Homo sapiens: one gene and its partner. The protein of the gene in region 1 interacts with the protein of each later gene in a biochemical or structural test. Each region holds a gene or a part of one and is shown in the gene's direction. Other genes may lie near its edges. The genes, in order: GUCY2C and PDZK1.

Region 1 (10,618 bases):
CTGCCTTCCCAGGGTTTCATTGGCGGTGGTTTTAACCATTAATGTCACTCAAGTGGTTTGAATCAGCTGGCTCACCATTTCAGCTTTTTTCCTAGCCTTAGTTCAATATGCCACTTGGACTACTAGTTGGTAGATGTTTTTATTGGATTTCCAAAGGTTATATCACACAAGTCTCTTGAAGAGCTACAATACACCATGGCTTCAGCACAACTCACTTTGGTTATTTATGTAAAAATTTTATGCGCAAGATAAAACTAAAACATGCATGAGCAATAACTAGAAGAATCAAAAAGAAATATGTGTAGCAAAGGGCAAATAAACTTAAGATTGCATGTAGGAACCAGATATCACTTAGACATTTATTTGAATAGTACCCCTTGGGGTAAATACATTAAAATAGAAGTTTCTTCTTTTTTATTTTTATTTTATTTAATTAATTAATTTATTTATTTTTGAGATGGAGTTTCACTCTTGTTGCCCAGGCTGGAGTGCAACGACATGAGCTCAGCTCACTGCAACCTCTGCCTCCTGGGTTCAAGCAATTCTCCTGCCTCAGCCTCCCAAGTAGCTGGGATTACAGGCGCCTGCCACCACACCCAGCTAATTTTTGCATTTTTAGTAGAGAGGGGGTTTCACCATGTTGGCCAGACTGGTCTCGAACTCCTGACCTCAGGTGATTCACCCACCTCGGCCTCCCAAAGTGCTGGGATTACAGGTGTGAGCCACTGTGCCTGGCCAGAAGTTTTTTCTTCTGGGAAGACTTTCTAAGAGATCTACTCTGTATACTAATTTTATCTATGTCAGCAACAACCTGTTATCAAAGCTCATCATGTTAACTCCCAGCCCTTCCTTCGTTTATTTACAACATGAGTTTCTCTCTCTGGATAACACACTATTTTCCAAGTGTAATAGTCCATTCTCACCCTATTATAAAGAACTACCCGAGACTAGGTAATTTATGAGGAAAGGAGGTTTAAATAACTCACAGTTCCACAGGGTGTTCAAGAAGCATGGCTGGGGAGGCCTCAGGAAATGTACAACCATGGTGGAAGAGTGAAGGGGAAGCAAGCACCTTCTTCGCATGGCAGGAAGAGAGAGAGAGAGCAAAGGGGGAGGTGCCACACACGTTCAAACAACTAGATCTCATGAGAACTCACTAACACAGGAACAGCAATGGGGAAATCTGCACCCATGATCCCATCACCTCCCACCAGGTCCCTCCCTTAACATTGGGGATTACAATTCAGCATGAGATTTGGGTGGGGACACGGAGCCAAACCATATCACCAAACTCATGTGACTTTTCAGATATAAGCAGTACAATGAATTGCAAATATGGCAGAATATCCAATTTTGTCATTGCATCTATGCAGCCTCCAAAATACTATGCACTTTATACAGGGCATGTCAAGAACAACCACTCCAGTCGTGTACCTAGGAATCCAAGCCACACCAAAGGAATGTTTTTCAAAGGTTCCAAGTTTTGTCATTGCACCAATTAAAAAGGTTTCTCCGGATACTCTGGAGGTTCTCCAAATGAGTGTTAGAAATCTTTGTGGTTGATTGGTTGTTTTCTTTCCGGGAGAGCCCACCTCCTTTGTTGCAGTCAGCATACCTCCAAATCTTCCCCATCTTCCTGAATATCCAAGGCCTGGGTTGTGCAGGGAGTGTAATGCAAAAAAAGACTGATGGGTGGGACTGAAGGCTTCCTGAATTCTAGCCCTGGCTCTGTCCCTAATCGGCTGTGGGAACTTAGGGAAGTCATACTTTTTTAGACCTCAACTTTCTCATCTGTAAAAATAAAGATTTCTTTTCAATGACTTCCGTGGAACCTCCCAGCTTCCAGTTTCTGATTCTAGTGGTTCCATACTGAGGGCCACTACAAAGTGATGCCAAGGACAGACAGGGACCATCCCACTTCATGTCAGCCCTCACTTCCTTTTCTCAATGAAGAGGTAACTTGGCACACCAAGTATGGAGTCCCTTCTTCTGGTTCTCTTCCTTCAATCTTGAATCTGATATGCTGCTCCTCATTCAGCAAAGATATTCTAAAAGTTGCTTTAATTTGACTTCTACAGTTTTAGCATGATTTAATTTATTTACATGATTGATTCTGCTTTACAAAGGACCCAAATCTGGTTCAAAATATCAAATGAACTCTGGTTCAGAATATATCAAAATTTATATTTAAATGCATCATTATTTCATAGTAATATTAAGCAATGCCATATTACATATGCCAGGAAAGTAAAACTATCAACTTTGTTGAGAAATTCAGATCTGATACCTGTGGTGATTTAAGTAATACCACACTCTCCTCAGCTTCTGCATGTAGAGCCACATCTGTAAGAGGTTGATTATCAATAGAGAAGCAAAAAGTGGACAAGTATGTATATGTATGAGAGTTTTGAGGATATTAAAGTTATCTATTTATGTGTATTAGGATTAATAATCAAACACTAAGTTAATGTTGAACCTGCTTGTATTCATCTGTGTTCACAACATGCATTATATGTGTATTTGTGTAATATGTTCATGTATATGATATACACAACCTCTGTTTCCGATTCACTCAATTCACTGGAAGTCTCAAATTCTAGAATTCTTGGTAGACAATCACTACTACCTGAAAGATTTATGTGAAACAAGAAGAAATTTGCTGAAGTTGAAGGCATTTTTTTTCCCTTCGTTCATCTAGGCTAGTGGTAAAGTCTCTGAAGGAGAAAGGCTTTGTGGAGCCGGAACTATATGAGGAAGTTACAATCTACTTCAGTGACATTGTAGGTTTCACTACTATCTGCAAATACAGCACCCCCATGGAAGTGGTGGACATGCTTAATGACATCTATAAGAGTTTTGACCACATTGTTGATCATCATGATGTCTACAAGGTAACCACATCACCTAACAGGCTGAAACCATTAATTGTACAACTCAAGGTCATCAGAGCCTGAATTGGTTGTTTCTGTTACTACTCTTGACCGCTCTAGTTTCACATTTAGTGAATTGGTGGTTGAATCTGAGCTAAAAGTGAAGAGAAGTAGAAGGATTAGAGGAGTGAGAAGTCAAAATTACCATTCAACTTTAAGAAGCAGCAAAAAAGATACAACAGGAAGTTCAGCAGGAATTAATTTGAAGTATTAAATTTAGACAAAATGGCATACTCTTAAATCACCTCCAAAAAATGGGCAGTGTTTAGGCTGACTGCAAATGAAGCAGAGAAGACACTGGGGTTATAATAAATAGAAAATCATACTACAAGAATGTATACAATTACATATTACAAAGTACAATATTCTGTTAAATAGTATGTTGACATTTGCTAAAGGATTAATTTTCAGGAAACTAAGGGTGTTCCTCAAATTACATAAAACCATTCAGATTATTTATTTGAACATTTCTAGAACTGTCACCACATCTGGACAATTTATATAATTATGAAGTACTTTTAAATGGCTAAATTCCTTTATAGCTATTTTATCACCCATTAACTGGACTATAAAAACCCTGAAGAAATCAGCATAGAACTGATCCAACTGGCCCCAGAAAAAGTGTAAAGGGCTATGCTCATACTGTGTTCCCAAATCACTTTTTGTGTTTGACATGTGATTAACTGCTTCTGTTTACTTTCTATACTTTTCAAAGGGGCAGAGGCACTCATGAGAAACTGTTTCCACAGGTGGAAACCATCGGTGATGCGTACATGGTGGCTAGTGGTTTGCCTAAGAGAAATGGCAATCGGCATGCAATAGACATTGCCAAGATGGCCTTGGAAATCCTCAGCTTCATGGGGACCTTTGAGCTGGAGCATCTTCCTGGCCTCCCAATATGGATTCGCATTGGAGTTCACTCTGGTATGGAGTTGAGCATCTTAGCAAATTGGGAACCATATGTACTGCTGTGCACCAACTAAATCAGAAAGGATAAAAGGTCTTCAAGTGTGATCGACCTCACATAATTTTTACTCTTAATTCTTTTTGCCAAATGTGAGGTCCCACTATGCATCCTGAGATATTTAGACCCAGTTCCTAGAGAACTCTAAGAACAAGACCTTTGAGGGCACCACTGACTGCTGACATGATAAACACCAAACATGTACGAAAACAAGAAGCTTTGGACTCCTATTTAAATCACCATACCTATGATTTCATTTATTTCCTCCCCATTCCCTTTCTCCCCACCCCCAACTTCAATATATTTTCCCACTAAAATATTATAGTATCTTAAGTGGATTAGATTATCTACAAGGGGAAATAAAGAACAGATGGTGAAATTTCTATAATATTTATACCCCCTCCCTTCCCTGCCACTGCAGTTATACAGAAAGTACATGAGTCACTTTCAAAGACCATGAAAGTTACATAGCCTTGTTAAAAGAAAAGCTTATGCATATTAAATTTAACACAGTTTGATTGAGCAAAGAATAATTTTCAAATCAGATGGCCCTTAAAACCAGAAGAGGTTCAGAGAGCTTCAATGGGCAAGGTGGGCGGGCAATGTTTATAGACAGAAAACAGAAGTGAGGGACAGAAACAACTTGATTGGTCAAACCTCTGTGTTCCCCTGATTTGGTCAAAGTCCCATCAGTTGACAGCCTGTGACTGGCTGAAGCTCAGCTACTGCGATTGGCTGAGACTCAGCTATCTATAACGTAAGTATACCCTAGTTAGGCTTTTAGTTTGTTTATGTACCAAGCTAGGTTGCAGTTTGTTTTGTAGGGACCCCTAAGAGGCAGCCTCAGGCCAAACTTAGTTTAATTCAACAGCCTTGAACATCAAGGTTTGAGATGAGTTACAGGTGTTATAGAAAAAACACCTGTAAGAGAGGAACTCAGAAGTCATCTAGATGAATCTTTAGCCAGGCATTGCTTAAAACTCAGCTTTGCAGTTTTTGAGTTAATCTTTAACTTCTGAAACTGTTAACACCTTGCACTCAGTCATTCTATGCAAATACATGACTGAATAACCCTTATTTCCTACCTAATATGCCACAGCGCATAGTCTAGCCTGGGCTTTTGTTCTGCTTGTTGGAACCTCCTTGTGCCACAGGCTTCCCCATCCAGCTGCATTCGCCTGGTCCATGAAATGCTTACGGAAAGTTATGCCTTTGTCTTGTCTTCTGTCTTCCATTGTCATGGCACCAATCCCAGAAATGCCACCTTAAAATAAAAATAAAACAAACTTGAGCCATTGAAGCTTCAAATCTACAGTGCCCTCCAGCAGTGTGAAATTCAGGGTTGTGTGGTTTGGCACAGTAAGCAAGCAGTGGGGCTCATCTTCATCCTTCCTGAGAGCCTTCTATTTAAAATCACCTTTGTGATCTGGATCTCTGAATGCCTTCCTATTTGCTACAAATGTCGTTTTCTTTGCGAGAGCAAAATACTTTATGATCGCATGCATTGAATAATGATGCTTCATTGGATTCATCCATTTAAACCAAAAGTCCCAGCTCACATTTCACATCCTCAGCTACTTCTCCATGACAGGAAGTATTCAGGATTGTGACCATACAGAGAGGCTTACCTGTCTTCACTCTACTCTGCAATTTCTATTGCCTCCACTTCCTGCTTTCTGTCCTTCATTTCAGGTCCCTGTGCTGCTGGAGTTGTGGGAATCAAGATGCCTCGTTATTGTCTATTTGGAGATACGGTCAACACAGCCTCTAGGATGGAATCCACTGGCCTCCGTAAGAAGGGAGACTGTTTTTCTCAGAGGACAAAGATGCTGTTTTCCAGCAGAGGGCAACTGTGAGATAAAATGCACAATAAGGAGATACAAAGTGCCAGTGAGATGTAGAATAATTCTTCACATTAGCTGAACACAAACCCGTGTCAATCCACCTTTTGCTACATTTGCTTTCATTGTTGTTTACTGATAATTATTTTATTCTTCCACTTTTGCTCAGTTTTAGACTATTTCTATATTTTTGGCTCATATACAATGAATCTGGGGATATTCTACTTAGAATAGTCCTGGCATTTACCATAGATTCATGAAAGTTAAAAAAAAATCAGTAGGCAAGGTAAGAACTACACACTCTGGTTCACATTCCTGTTTCCCTCTTATTTGGTTTTGCTTTTTTGTTGTTGTTTTTTAGAGACAGGCTCTCGTTCTGTCACCCAGGCTGGAGTGCAGTGACACGATCATAGCTCCCTGTAAACTTGAACTCCTGGGCTCAAGTGATCCTCCCACCTCATCCTCCCAAGTACCTGGGACTACAGGAACATACCAGCACATCCAGATAATTTTTAAATTTTTAATAGAGACTGGGTCTCACTATGTTGCCCAGGCTGGTCTCAAACTCCTGACCTCAAGGAGTCCTTCCACCTTGGCCTCCCAAAGCATATTCGTTTTTTCTGGAAATTGATTTTTGTTTATTTGTTTGAGATGGGGTCTCACTCTGTCGCCTAGGCTTTGGCACAGTGGCACAATCACAGCTCACTGCATCCTTGAACTCCTCAGCTCTAGTGATCCTCCCACCTCAGCCTCCTAAGTAGCTGGGACTACAGGCATGCCACCATGCACAGCTAATTTTTTAATTTTTTCTGTAGAGGTGTGGTCTCTCTATGTTGTCTAGGCTGGTCACAGATTCCTGGGCTCAAGCAAGTCTCCTGCCTTGGTCCCCCAAAGCCCCAAAGTGTTGGAATTACAGGCAAGAGCCATCATACCCAACCAAGAATTGATTTTAGTAAAGAAAAATCTAAGCATTTGTTATATACGAAGGAATATATTGCATTTGCTTGGCAAGGTAGAGGCACAATGTGCTGCATGAAGTAGATGCTCAATAAATATTGATGACAGTGGTAGCAGTAGAAATATATAGAAGAGAGAAAATAAGCACTGGGAGACATGGCTGGGGCTTACGAAACCACAGGAGGCAGGATGGTATTTTGGTAGTGTACTGACAATGTGATACTAGTTTGTCCTGGCAAATCATGCTGGCAAGGAAAAGGATAAGGTTGGGGTCAGACAGACTTGGGTTACAATTGAAATTATGTTAATCATTCTCAGTATAAGTTGAGTAGAAAGCTACCTGATCCTTCTAGCCCTCAGAAAGATAAAGATACAAATTGAAAATGGAATACCAACCGTGCCAAGAGGGTTTCTGAAATAATTTGGGATGATGTCATGTTAAGCGTTTAGCAATCATGGTACATGGTAGGTATACAATTTGGGATTGTCATTATTCTTACTGTGTAATTGTTTGTGGTATTGCTATTAGGCCCCTATATTGGGAAAGGTGATACACATCAATGGACTTGTGAATGGGCGTGCCCTCACCACTTCTTTTGTCAAAGGATAACAATGTTCCAGAAGAAGGAAATTTGAGAAAATCAAGACCCCTCAACTCTCCCGAATCTTCACCTTGCCCACAAGGCTTTAGCTATTTATTGGAACTTTTCCACAGGGACCCAAAACCAAACTCCAACACCCAAGCTTGGCACTACAAGCCAAATCTAAAACTAGGTCCCGCAGGCTACTACTCTGAGCTGGAATGAGAATCTATGGAGAAAAACCTAGGGATCCCCATCACATCACGCAGGGCCCTGAAAACTGATGCCAGGCCTTCTTTCTTCCCACGTGAGATTATATTTCTTGTGTGAGGGCATTCTTGCATTGCTATAAAGAAAAACCTGAGACTGGGTTATTTATAAGAAAAGAGGTTTAATTGGCTCATGGTTCTGCAGGCTGTAAGGGAAGAATAGCACCTGCATCTGCTTCTGGGGAGGCCTCAGGAAGCTTTCACTCATGGCAGAAGACAAAGCAGGAGCAGGCACTTCATACAGCAAAAGCAGGAGTAAGAAAGAGAGTGGCAGGGGCAGGTGCCACACCTTTTTAAATGACCAGATCTTGTGACAACTCAGTATCGCAAAGACAGCACCAAGCCATGAGGGATCCACCCCTGTGACCCAGACACCTGGTCGGGGGCCAGGACTCCAGCACTGGGGATTAAAATTCAACATGAGATTTGGGTGGGGACAAATATCCAAACTATACCATTTCTTATCTCTCTGATGTTATTTTTAAGTGTTCTTTCATTAAAATAGCCACAATTGTTTCTTCTTGATTTAGGATTCTTGTCTCAGGTGTTGTTGATATCCTGAATCAACGGGAAACAAATAGGCTGTGTACTAGCTGGGATTTTTATTTGTCAATTTGCATTTCCAGCTTTGAGAATTCACGTGAGTGGCTCCACCATAGCCATCCTGAAGAGAACTGAGTGCCAGTTCCTTTATGAAGTGAGAGGAGAAACATACTTAAAGGTAAGGAGTCCACAGAGACAATGCATAGGAAAAGCTCTCAGACACGCTTGGGCCACCTCCTTTGAGACTTGGCCAGGAAAGTTGAGCATGCTAATCCTCTTCTGTACTCATCACGATGAGCACCCTCCATCCTCTGCAAGAGAAATGACCACCAAAAAATGTGAACTCAAAACTTGCCTTTACTCCAAAGAGCCCTTTTGAGATTTTGAACTCTGCCAGCATTTCCTCTGCCATATCCAGGTTTTGTATCCAGTTCCTCCTCCAAACACAAGAGCTACATACAGTCTGGTCCAGGACTTATTTAATTTGAATCAAAACCCTTGTCCCCCCACTTACTTCCCTACTCTTACTACACACTGCTGCTATGATCTGAGGTCACCTCTCTTGCCAGTTGCTTTACTATTCGGAAGCTCTAGAATCACAAGGAGTGAATGACAAGGTGTGGCCCCATTCTCCTCCTCTTCCTCATCTGGAAGCTTGTTAAAATGCAGATGTGTGGACACTCTACCAGGCCTACTATGCAAGATTCTCTGTGGGCGTAGATCAGAAATCTATATTTTTAACAAGATAATGTGTTTGTGACCACACTAATATTTGAGAATCGCTATTCCAGATTCTTCATGCAGTTCCTCACATTTAAAACAGCTGCCCTCCATAGCCATCAGTTGTCTCCAAATGCTTCTCAGGCTGCTTTTCCAAAGTTATTGGAATCTTTTCACAACTGGCAAAGCCAGCTATTAACTGTAAGTTACCTGTCTCCGGTAGCCATAATGCTTCTGGCCTTTACATTTGGATTGCACCTTGGAAAAGTCTCCTTTTACGTAAAAGTGTCCTAACATCACACTTGCTTTTTGAGTCCTCCATAAGTACATTTTTTACAAAGAACACTTACCCCAAAATAGAACCAGTTTATGGATTGCTATGGTCCAAACACAGCCAGTGAACCACTACTTTTTTAAATGAGTTTAACAATATATATCAATTATATATATATATATATCAATCACTCATTTTTAAATTATTGATATATATTATAGATATATATTATTAAACTCATTTTTTAAAAATAGTGGTTCACTGGCTGTGTTTGGGCCATATGTATTTTGTATCTCTTTTTCAAATACCAGCTTTAGCAAAAACAGGGTTTCCAGTATTCCAGTAAATTTCCATACATTCCGTAGCCTCCAGATGGGCCCCAGAAATGCCACTTAATGAGTTCTTAATTGTGATGTACATGTGTTTGTAATAAGATAGGGAAACTGTAGCAAAAGTTTTGTAGCAAAACTTTATTGCAAAAAGGGCTAGAAGGAAATATGGACAATGACAACCAGTTGGATTTGTTGACGTAGCAGAATTGTAGATGAATTTTCTTCCTTTTTAAGTTAGAGTTCTTGTGATGTTGCTAGAGTGATATTTTAAAATGTCTTTTGGGGAAAAAAAAGAAAACTCTACTTTGAGAAAAGGATGTCTGCTGAATGAGAAACTTATTTTTAAAAAGGCACTTGGAAATAAAAATCTGTCTAGAGATAATGCAAATCATAACAGGAATGTGTGATGTGCTTAAATATTGGCACTGATGAGAAATGCGGAAGTGAAACATGTCACAGAAACAGATCATTATGGAAACAGTGGTCTACAACTGAACTGACTCCTTGGACTCCGTGGTACGTAACTCTTTTGTCTTACCAGGGAAGAGGAAATGAGACTACCTACTGGCTGACTGGGATGAAGGACCAGAAATTCAACCTGCCAACCCCTCCTACTGTGTAAGCTTCTGGGTGTGGCAGGGACAGGGAGGAAATTAGAGATCTTGGCTTTGTTAGTTACAGCCAATTTAAATTGGCAAATGCCTTACAAGTGGCATATATTGCATAAGAAGTAAGGGACTATACATGAGAAGGTTTAGAAACCTCCCTTCCTAGACTGCAAGAAGGGGATTATCCTGAAACCCTGCATTTTCCTGAGACCTCAATGAAACAGAAAAGTATTTAGCCTTGGCTTCCCTGTCTGGAACACAGACTTGCTTCCCTGAATCAGATGTGGGGGCTCAGTATAAAACTACCTTTTTTTTTTTCCACTGTGGATCCTTTATCCCAAGAGGGAGCTTCCACCTGGAAAAGAGGAAGAATGAACAGACTATTTAGAACTTGAGGAGATTTTGTTATTTCATTTATTTCATTTTATTTACTGGCTCTGTATTCATGATATTTTTAACTGTCAAAATTATGTTTTAAATGCCTTATCTGCATTAAAGTATACTTAACTTATAGTTTATGCAGAAAATATACTATATATTAGACAAGAATGAGTTAAAAGTTTCCTGAGTCTGGGTATGAGCTTCTACCTATTCTGTCC
Region 2 (10,618 bases), on another chromosome or scaffold:
TTACCAGGTCAACTGTCACGGTATTAAAGTACTGTGTTCAAATAATCCTTATTTTGCTTAATAATGGCCCAGCACAGAAAGAAAAATATCACATATTCTCATATGTGGGAGCTAAAAAAGGTGAATCTCATGGAGGTAGAGAGTAGAATGAGAGATACCAGCAGCTGGGAAGGGTATGTGTGTGGGGTAGGGTGGGGATGAAGAGAGCTAGGTTAATGGGTACAAACCCACAGAGAGAAGGAATAAGTTCTAATGTTTGATAGCACAGTGGGGTGACTGTAGTTAACAACAATGTATTGTACATTTCAAAATAGCTGTAAGAAGATTTGAAATATTCTCAACACAAAGAAATGATAAATGTTCAAGGATGGATGTCCTAAATATTACACCCTGATTTGTTCATTATATGCTCTTGGTATCAAAATATGACACACACCCTATAAATATGTACAAATGTTATGTATCAATAAAAAATAATAGCTCAGGCCGGGCGCAGTGGCTCACGCCTGTAATCCCAGCACTTTGGGAGGCCGAGGCGGGCAGATCATGAGGTCAGGAGATCGAGACCATCCTGGCTAACACGGTGAAACCCTGTCTCTACTAAAAATACAAAAAATTAGCCGGGTGTGGTGGTGGGCGCCTGTAGTCCCAGCTACTCAGGAGGCTGAGGCAGGAGAATGGTGTGAACCCGGGAGGCGGAGGTTGCAGTGAGCTCAGATTGCGCCACTGCACTCCAGGCTGGGCGATAAAGCAAGACTCCGTCTCAAAAAAAAAAAAAAAAAAAGCCAAAAATGCAAGGATAGTGATGCTGGCAGTTCAGATATGACAAAGAGAAGCTGTAAAGTGGCCGGGCACAGTGGCTCATATCTGTAATCCTAGCGCTTTGAGAGTGCGAGGCGAGTGGATTACCTGAGGTCAGGAGTTCGAGACAAGCCTGGCCAACATGGCGAAACCCCATCTCTACTAAAAATACAAAAATTAGCCAGGCGCGGTGGCAGGCGCCTGTAGTCCCAGCTACTCGAGAGGCTGAGGCAGGAGAATCGCTTGAACCGGGGAGGCAGAGGTTGCTGTGAGCCAAGATTGCGGCCCTGCGTTCCAGCCTAGGTGACAGAGCGAGACTCCATCTGTTAAAAAAAAAAAAAAAAAGGCTGTAAAGTGCTTCTATTAAGTGAAAAGTTCTCGATTTAATAAGGAAAGAAAAAATACTGTATGCTGAGGTTGCTAAGATTAGCTCAGTTATTGTTAATCTCTTACTGTGCCTAATTTATAAGTTAAACTCTATTGTAGGTATGTAAGCACAGGAAAAAACATATAGGGTTCGGTATACTATCTTAAAGTTTCAGGCCTCCACTGGGGGTCTTGGAATGTATCCCCCATGGTTAAGGGGGAACTGCTCTATTAATATCTTTGAAGAATTGACAGCATTTCTATAAGTAGCACCTAAATCTCACCACCTAAATGCATTCGGGTTCTTCCCTCCCTCCTGTGCCTGTCCTTGTTAGCCTACATTGGTGAGATGACTCCACAGCATACGATGGCTAATATAATAGTACAAACTGAAGAGGAGAGAATGGTAAAGATGCTTTCTGATTCTACAAATGCAAAGAAAGGGCGTATGACACAATAATGCAGTGTGGGCATGTTTTAGCGCTTTCTGGTTCAAGGGGCCAAGGCCACCCAAGATTCCATCTTTGCATTTAGCTGACCTCAGAAATTCTATTCAAATCAACAAATACCCACTGAGTAAAGGCTGTGTCAAGTTCAGTGCCAGGACCTATAACTGTGATTTTAGATCAGAAGCCAAAGGCCGAGTTAGCTCTAAAATCGGAAGTTTGTTTCACATTATTGGGAGAAAAGTCTTTACCATTGGATTTCGAGTTTTTCTTTGCAATGGAGTGTTCTGTGAAAGGGTGGTGTATGCAAAGCAGTCCCTCAAAGGCCAAAGGAGCTGAGAAACCAAAGGACAAGGCAGGCAAATCCAGTTTGTTGGTACATTGGAATTTATCAGGGGAACTTACGAACAGAAGCATGGTCTTGGACAGCCACAAAACATGTAGATCTCTGTGTTACTCCCCAGACCCAAGGCTGATATACCATAGGGAAAGGGTATATGTGCTCCAGCAAGACAATCGAAGGCAGCCCTCCGCAATAGCCAAGAATGCTATAGTGCATCATAGCCTATAATTTGCGTGATAACATTAAGGTTGACATGTTCTTAGACTAGGGACAGTAAATGAAGTAGAAATCGGGAGGCAATCACAGGACTGGGGCTAATCAGAAGTCAACATCACAGATTACCATCCAAGAGGGAGTCACTTGTGTCTCCACATGGAGTTTACCCCTACTCTCTTCCAGGTAAAAAGGGGGTGTACATGACTGATATTACACCTCAAGGTGTGGCTATGAGAGCTGGAGTTCTGGCTGATGATCACTTGATTGAAGTGAATGGAGAGAATGTAGAGGATGCCAGCCATGAGGAAGTGGTTGAAAAGGTATGCCCCAAAGGGTACTTTTCTTACCCTATCTTCCACTCTATTCTCATTGGAGGTGACAGGAAGACAGGGGTGGTAGGGGACAGCATGAGTTTATGATGGAAAAAATATCCAGTTGAGTTGCCCCTTCATATTAAGGGTGAACAGACTCACACTAGTGGTATAAGCAGTGTTAATATAGGGTTTTGGAATAAAGCCTTCCCTAGTTTCACATGAGGTCTACAAAATTATTAACTTTACCTTTTGGATCTTGTTTGTATCTGATTGGGAGCCCCCTCTGAACTGTTTGATTGAGACAGGGTCTCACTCTGTTACCCAGGCTGGAGTGTAGTGGCACAATCTCGGCTCATTGCAGTCTCGGCCTCCTGGGCTCAGATGATTCTTCTACCTCAGCTTCCTGAGTAGCTGGGACTACAGGTGTGCACCACCGCACCTGGCTAATTTTTATGTGTGTGTGTGTGTGTGTGTGTGTGTGTGTGTGTGTGTGTGTTTTGTAGAGATAGGGTCTCACTATGTTGGCCAGGCTGGTCTTGAACTCCTGAGCTCAAGTGATCTGCCCGCCTTGGCCTCCCAAAGTGCTGGGATTATGGGCGTGTGCCACTGCGCCCTCTGAATTTACAATAAGTTCACTGTTGAGCCGTTAATACTGAAATGCTTTAATAGGAAGTGGGAGATAACCGAGATTTTCCTTTGAGGTCATATGGAACCTTAAAAATTGACCAACCTTCTCTTTGTAGAATGATTTTTTGACGTGGACCCTTACTTTCTTTTCTTTTCCAAACTCCCTTTCTAGCTTTTATCTAGGTACCTTTATGGGTTTTCTGAATTCCAGCTCCTACTTGGGCTCAGTTAGCACCTATGTGGGTAGGTCATACTTAAATAAGGGAAAACAACTATAGAAGTGGAGATAGGGGCCGGGCGCGGTGGCTCACGCCTGTAATCCCAGCACTTTGGGAGGCCGAGGCGGGTGGATCACGAGGTCAGGAGATCGAGACCATCCTGGCTAACAAGGTGAAACACCGTCTCCACTAAAAATAAAAAAAAAAAAATTTAGCCAGGTGCGGTGGCGGGCACCTGTAGTCCCAGGTACTCGGGAGGCTGAGGCAGGAGAATGGCGTGAACCCGGGAGGCAGAGCTTGCAGTGAGCTGAGATAGTGCCACTGCACTCCAGCCTGGGCGAAAGAGTGACACTCCATCTCAAAAAAAAAAAAAAAGGCGATAAATACATATCAGTTAGCTGGTAGGGCATAGTGTAACAGCTTAAACTCAGGCCTTTCATCCCCTATCTTTTGTTGAACCTAGAGACTGTGTGCCTTTATACAGAAACTTTCTTATTCCCCAGCATTGTTCTTGGGGGTTGATGTCATTCCTCATCTGTGTGTGTTGTTACAGGTGAAGAAGTCAGGAAGCCGTGTCATGTTCCTGCTGGTGGACAAAGAAACTGACAAGCGTCATGTTGAGCAGAAGATACAATTCAAAAGAGAAACAGCCAGTTTGAAACTGTTACCCCACCAGCCCCGAATTGTGGAGATGAAGAAAGGAAGCAATGGCTATGGTTTCTATCTGAGGGCAGGCTCAGAACAGAAAGGTAAGGTACAAGAGCAGGAAACTTGGCAGTAACCAGCAAATTCCTCATCCCATTCTGACTCCAGAGTTCCATTAGGTTCCCAACTCCCAGCCAGATGCATGAGCGGCATAGCATAGAAGGCACAGCTGGGTCAGCGTCTATGTCACATGAGGGTCTGATGTTGGGCATCAAAAGTTTCCATAGCATTATGATAAGGCAGAATTTGGGATCTGGGCAACGGTATCCTGGTAAGTTAGCTCTCTGGGGCGGGGGTGGGGGGAAATCCAAATTGGTAGCGTTTGTTTTTGGTACCAAATTGGTAGTATTTTGTGATGTAAATACTCCTCCCATGTCCAGTTTCAACTTACTAACACGATGTCACTGAACACAATGAAGTGTTGCACAGAATTGGCTTTTGTGAGCCGGTGTGAGCCAGTATAGCACACCGCTGGACCTGAGGCCGAGGTGTGGGTGAGGATTTGGGACTCAGAACCAGGAGTCCTCCTTCCTTGCAACTCAATAGGAAGAACACTAGGTTCTTTCAGGGAAGGTAAATACATAAAAGAACATGAGTTCGGGCCGTATAAACTGCTATTCGCCCATAAGTTGTTATTTTCTTTTCACTCTCTGTTTACATTAATTTATCAAATATTAATTTGGTTTGTGTTTTGTAAAAACATCCTCAGTGCCTTGGAGAAAGAATATCATATGAAGCAGACAGGAATTCTTTAGTGAAGGAGTCTACCATTTAGTAGATAAGAGATATGTCCATAATGAAGGGAGATAGAGGTTAAGTACCTTCATACAGGGGCAGATCAAGCACTGTGATAATTCAACGTTAGAGTAAGCTTTTCTCACTAAAAAGGTACCAGAAGCCCTCATAGTAGGGGTGGCACTTGAGTTCAGGCTTTGTAACATGAATAGATTTGGGAAAGTAGACAGAGCTGGGATAAGGAAGATCATTCCAGGAAGGTGGGAATCATGTGAACACAGTCAGGAGACACTGGCACAGTTTAATTGGCACATGATGTGTAGTACAAGAATTCGTTGGAAAGGTAGGTTGGAGAGAGGTGACAAGGGGACTTCTATGCAAGACTGATGAGTTTGAACTTGGCTTATCAGACAATGGGGAGTTGTTTTTTGAGCAGTATAAGGGAGAAGAACAAAAACCAGCCTATAATGTCTTGGGGGCTTTGCACATCTCAATTACTCCTAACAATTATGCAAGAAGAACTGCTGAAATTGAGGGCTTGGAGAAGATACAGTAATTATGTAAGGTCAAATAGTTGTTTAGTTCCAAAGCCCATGCTCATTCTGTTGCACCAGGAAGTGACTTGGTTAGGAATGTGCACCAAGATGGATCTGAAGGCAGATCTGTATCAGACAGAAGGACTGGGGAAGGGAAAGCAGTAGGTAAGGTGCTGTAATAGTTTAGGTAGAATTCTAGGCAGGAACTAATACAAACTGCATTCAGGGTAGAGGAAGTGGGATGTGTAAGGTATTATGGTAGCATCAGAGGACTTAGCAATCGTCTAGATATGGGGACTGGATGCTGGGGAAGAATCAGTTGCCAAGTGTTGGTGACTGGGATGATGTTGCTCCACTAACAGGTAACCAAGAGGAGGGGCTTTGGGATGGAGAATGGGCAGAGCTGATTTTTGGCTTGAATACATTACAGTTGAGAGATCTATGAGATATTTTGTTGGAGATACCCAGCAGCTAGCTGGAAAAGTGAAACAGGAACTTGTTAAAAAAAAAAAAAAAGGCAGCATCTGGTGAAGATACCAGAAGGCCAAAGCACATGGAGGCATGTATATACAAATATATTCAAAACCGAACACACCCAATTGCTACTAAAATGCCAGCCTGGGTTTCTTAAGGTCCAAAGTTTTGGGTTTTGTTCTTTATTCTTCCCCATCTTTTATGACAGCTTTTACATAAGACGCGTGGCTACAAGTATGCCCACTGACTTTCTGGGAACTTGCAGCCTTTTAATATGCTATTTTGCCAAAATCAAATGTCAGACGCTTTTAGTAACAGGATTATTTTCGTTAAGACCCCTTCATTGTTAATTGCTGGGTTAGTTTCTGGGGTGAGTTCTGAGCAGGAAACGAGCCTAGATAGTGTGCTTATAAGCTTCCTGGGATGCTGGTGGAAGGGGTGGTAGTTGTACTCAGCATGCCTTTTTTATCTGTTTCATCAGGGCTTTGGGCTCCAGCAGAAAATCTGTTTTATTTTTTTAGGGGACTTACTGATAATTTTATTTTTTGGGGTTGGGGGAGGGTAGGTCAAATCATCAAGGACATAGATTCTGGAAGTCCAGCAGAGGAGGCTGGCTTGAAGAACAATGATCTGGTAGTTGCTGTCAACGGCGAGTCTGTGGAAACCCTGGATCATGACAGTGTGGTAGAAATGATTAGAAAGGGTGGAGATCAGACTTCACTGTTGGTGGTAGACAAAGAGACGGACAACATGTACAGACTGGTAAGTAATACAAGGCCATATATTCATGCATTAAGGCTGGGCCCATTCACTCATGACCTCAACTTTTGCACTGAGTTAGGACTTTGTTCCTCAAACTGGAAGAGGCATAACAATCATCATTAAGGCTAAACTGAAGCTCAACTCAAATTGGTAGTGATAAGAGAATGCCAAATGATTGATAAATGAGTTTTAAGTCCTTGGTCTTAAGATTTTGAAAGAATTTGTGAATATAACTGCAGGCTTACTCTTGGTGATCTGAGAAAATCTATGGAGAATATAAGCCTGGAAATAAAATTGTTCCCAAAATAGGAAACAATTAGATTTTAAGCTTTAGGTCAGTTAAGTGCTATCAACTGCACATAAAAGCCTAGAAAGGATTATTAAACAACTTGTAAGCCCTTAGCAAATAAAAAAGAAACACAGATAGACCAAGACCAACCTGAATCAAACTAACTTTATTTTCTCTTAACAGCTCTTTATCATAACACCCACTACTGCATGTTTTAAGGTTTTTTTTTTTTTTTTTTTTTTTTTTTTTACTTTTAACACAAGAACTGAGGTTGTCTAGTTTAACAGATAACCTGGGGGGCCTTCTAAGTACCATCTGTCTTGCTAAGTGTTGATTGTAAAGATGAACAAGATAAATGTCCTCTGTGATATACAATGATAGTAGAATCTAAAATAAGCGGTACAGAGGGGGGAATATGATGGGTGGTGATATCTTAGGCCCTCCTCATAGATTAGGAAACCGAAGCTTAGAGAGACTAAGCACTTTGCTAAAGTCACGCAGCTTAGTAAAGACTGAAGGTGGTATCTGAACCCAAATTCTTGGACCCGTAATTCATTATACCATACTCCCCAGCACATTTTTTCAAGATAATCTTGTAAGCAGGATTAAACAATTAATTAGATTAATGGCTTTTTTTTTTTAGCTACTTGAACAATCATACCTAGAAAATACTTGATATCAACCTGAATATCAACTTGAATAGAAGTCTCTAATGGCATGCTACTTGTTCCTAACCGTTTATGTGCTTAAAGTTGAAAGGAGATATGGAAAATATATTAACATACTTAAAGTGGCACTAGATAATTCATTTGCTGGATGGTGTAATTAATACTCAAAATATTTAGTTAGGATAGAAAGAATGAAAACTAAAGAAATAAGAATAAATTTCAGATGTACTATACTAACCTAAAAGTAAATTGTATGAATACCACATGGTGAGACCTGATTTGAGGACTACAGAAAAAGACCAGAAACTTCATAGTCCAAGTGGTTGCCCCATCCAAATATGGTAATTTAAAAATTAACTGACAGACACTTGGCTTCTAGAGATGACCATCTTACTGTACTTACTTGGTCAGACCATACTTGGAATACCTGGTAATATAGTTACCACCTCTCTCTGTGCTTCAGTTTCCTTAGTTGTAAGAGAGGGGTAGTAGCTACAGCGAAGGGTGGCTATGAGGGTTGAATTGGAATATTCAGAGCATGTAGAATAATGCCTCACACATCTAAATGTTCTATTTGTTCAATCAATATTGTGTCCGGTTTCAAGAACTTCACTTTAAGAAGGCAATGACAAGGGTAACCAGGGAAGAGGTTTTGGAAGCCACCATGTGAGTATTTAGCTTGAGTAAGGCTTTGGAGAAGAGAGCATCTTCAAGAATTTGAAAGGCTATTACATGTAAGAAGGAGCACACTTTTTTTTTTTTTTTTTGAGACGTTGTCTTGCTCTGTCACCAGGCTGGAGTGCAGTGGTGCCATCTCAGCTCACTGCAATCTCCACCTCCCGGGTTCAAGCGATTCCCCTGCCTCAGCCTCCTGAGTAGCTGGAATTACAGGTGCGCACCACCATGCCCAGCTAATTTTTTGTATTTTAGTAGTTTTACCATGTTGGCCAGGATGGTCTCGATCTCCTGACCTTGTGATCCGCCCGCCTCGGCCTCCCAAAGTGCTGGGATTACAGGTATAAGCCAACACGCCCGGGCCACACATTTTTTTTAAGGTGTCCTATGGGGCACAACAGGACCAGAGAAGCCATAGGGAGCTAGCTTTTGGCTTAAGAACCAACTGAAGCTGCCAGAAATGATGAGTCATTTTGCAGTTGGTGGAAAGTCAAGCAGAAATCAGAGGCGGCTGCTGCAGCTGTTTGTTGTAAAGGGGATTCTGACCCCTCCTGATCTTATCATAGAATGATTTAATTGTAATTTTTCTGTTTTGGTTAATAGAGAACTTTGATCGAAAAAGAAGCCTGCCCTCATCATCTCCTTCCCCGCTCTCCAAAGTAAGCCCTGTAGGTTGGGGTGGAGGGTAGATCTTTGAGATACATCAGTGAGTAAAACACAACCCTCTAGCAGTCCCTGGCACATACTAGACACCCAATTATCTGAATGAAGCATGAATAAAATCTCATTTTTTTTTTTTGAGACAGAGTCTCCCGCTGTTGTCCAAGCTGGAGTGCAATGGTATGTTCTCAGCTCACTGGAACCTCTGCCTCCCAGGTTCAAGTGAGTCTCCTGCCTCAGTCTCTCAAGTAGCTGGGACTACAGGTGTGTGCTACCACACCTGGCTAATTTTTATATTTTTAGTAGAGAATGAGGTTTCACCATTTTGGCCAGGCTGGTCTCGAACTCCTGACCTCAAGTGATCCGCCCACCTTGTACTCCCAAAGTGCTGGGATTTCAGGCATGAGCCACCAAGCCCGGCCAAAATCTCAAGTGTTTTAATGTTATTGCACTTTGCCTCGAGATGAGCTGCGACTGTCAGATACAGTTGATTTGCTTGTTTGGGTAGTGTTATCAGACGTATTTTTGCATGTAATGAGTCACCTGATAATTTTCCATATTTTAAAGAGAAAGGCTCCATTGTGGAACTGTTGCAAGTATATGACTGAAAGGTCTGAAGTTAGTTGAACTGGGTAACTAGGAGGTTCTGTGCTGGTGGTATTCTCACTTAGAAAGGAAGGAGATGTGGTCTTGTGGTTAGTAAGACACATGATAACCAGAGGACTAAAAATCTAATTTTAGTCAGGCTGCTAAACAGTGCGATTTGAAGTAGAGCCCACACTGTGCTCACCTTCCATTGCTTGATTTCCTACTCATCACCTAACAAATGTTCCGGACACGTGTGGGCAGCCATTTAGCTGCTGATCCAGGATCACACCATACCCAGGTCCACCCTTCTAATTGTCTCAACTAAAACAGCCAGTTAGGCTTGTAATTCTATTACAAAAAAATCAATCCTGTTTCCTGTTCTATGCCTCTTCGGTATTCAAGATCATCATTTCTTTACATGGATGGTCTGGGAGTTGATATGAATTAGGAGTATTTAAAGATGTTGGAGAGTTTGGCATAATAGAAGTGACAGCTAATGCTTACAACAATACATAGCAAAATAAATAAGCACAGATCCCAGGTCTGGAAGGGGAGGGTATTGGCAAGCAGCAAAGGGTTGGAATTAACTTTTGTTACAATATGTGACCATATAACAGCTGTCACCCTCTCACCAATTATTCCTGTGTATATGGGTTGGTCTCTTCTAGTAGCTTTGAATCTTTGGATAGTGATAAAAATAGTGTTATATTAACATTCTCCAGAGAGACAGATCTAGTAGGATATAGATACAGGTATGAGAGGAGATTAATTAGGGGAATTGGCTTGTATGATTATGGAGGCTGAGAAGCCCCACGACAGGCTGTCTTCAAGCTTGAGACCCTGGGATGCCAGTAGTGTGGCTCCGTCCAAATCTGACTGAGCCACATTACTGGCATCACCCCTGATTGGCAGTCCTACTTGTTTGCTTCTGTGCATTTGGCCTGAGAATCTGGGGGGCTGCGGCTGTAGATCTTAGAGTCCAAAGGCCGGAGAACCAGGAATTCTGATGTCCAAGCACAGGAGAGGAAGAGGGTATCCCAGCTCTAGCAGACAGACTGACACCTTTGCCTTTTCTGTAGTTCACTCAGACTCGCATGCTAATCCCCTCTGGAACCACCTTCACAGACACACACCAAAATAATGCTTTGCCGGGCTTCTAGGTATTCCTTAATCCAGTCAAGTTGGCATCTAAAAT

The links.
Region 2: the proteins of GUCY2C (region 1) and PDZK1 form a complex in vitro, tested with the Homo sapiens proteins (one study listed by IntAct).

What each region holds. Positions count from the first base shown.
Region 1 is NC_000012.12:14,614,278-14,624,895, reverse strand, and holds part of GUCY2C (guanylyl cyclase C precursor), read left to right. Parts: intron 1-2,698; coding exon 2,699-2,891; intron 2,892-3,679; coding exon 3,680-3,854; intron 3,855-5,140; exon of another isoform or gene 5,141-5,158; intron 5,159-5,522; exon of another isoform or gene 5,523-5,586; coding exon 5,587-5,685; exon of another isoform or gene 5,686-5,744; intron 5,745-8,168; coding exon 8,169-8,263; intron 8,264-9,952; coding exon 9,953-10,029; intron 10,030-10,325; exon of another isoform or gene 10,326-10,374; intron 10,375-10,618.
Region 2 is NC_000001.11:145,674,374-145,684,991, reverse strand, and holds part of PDZK1 (Na(+)/H(+) exchange regulatory cofactor NHE-RF3), read left to right. Parts: intron 1-2,355; coding exon 2,356-2,492; intron 2,493-3,884; coding exon 3,885-4,080; intron 4,081-6,346; coding exon 6,347-6,543; intron 6,544-8,778; coding exon of another isoform or gene 8,779-8,834; intron 8,835-10,618. UniProt on the Homo sapiens protein: A scaffold protein that connects plasma membrane proteins and regulatory components, regulating their surface expression in epithelial cells apical domains.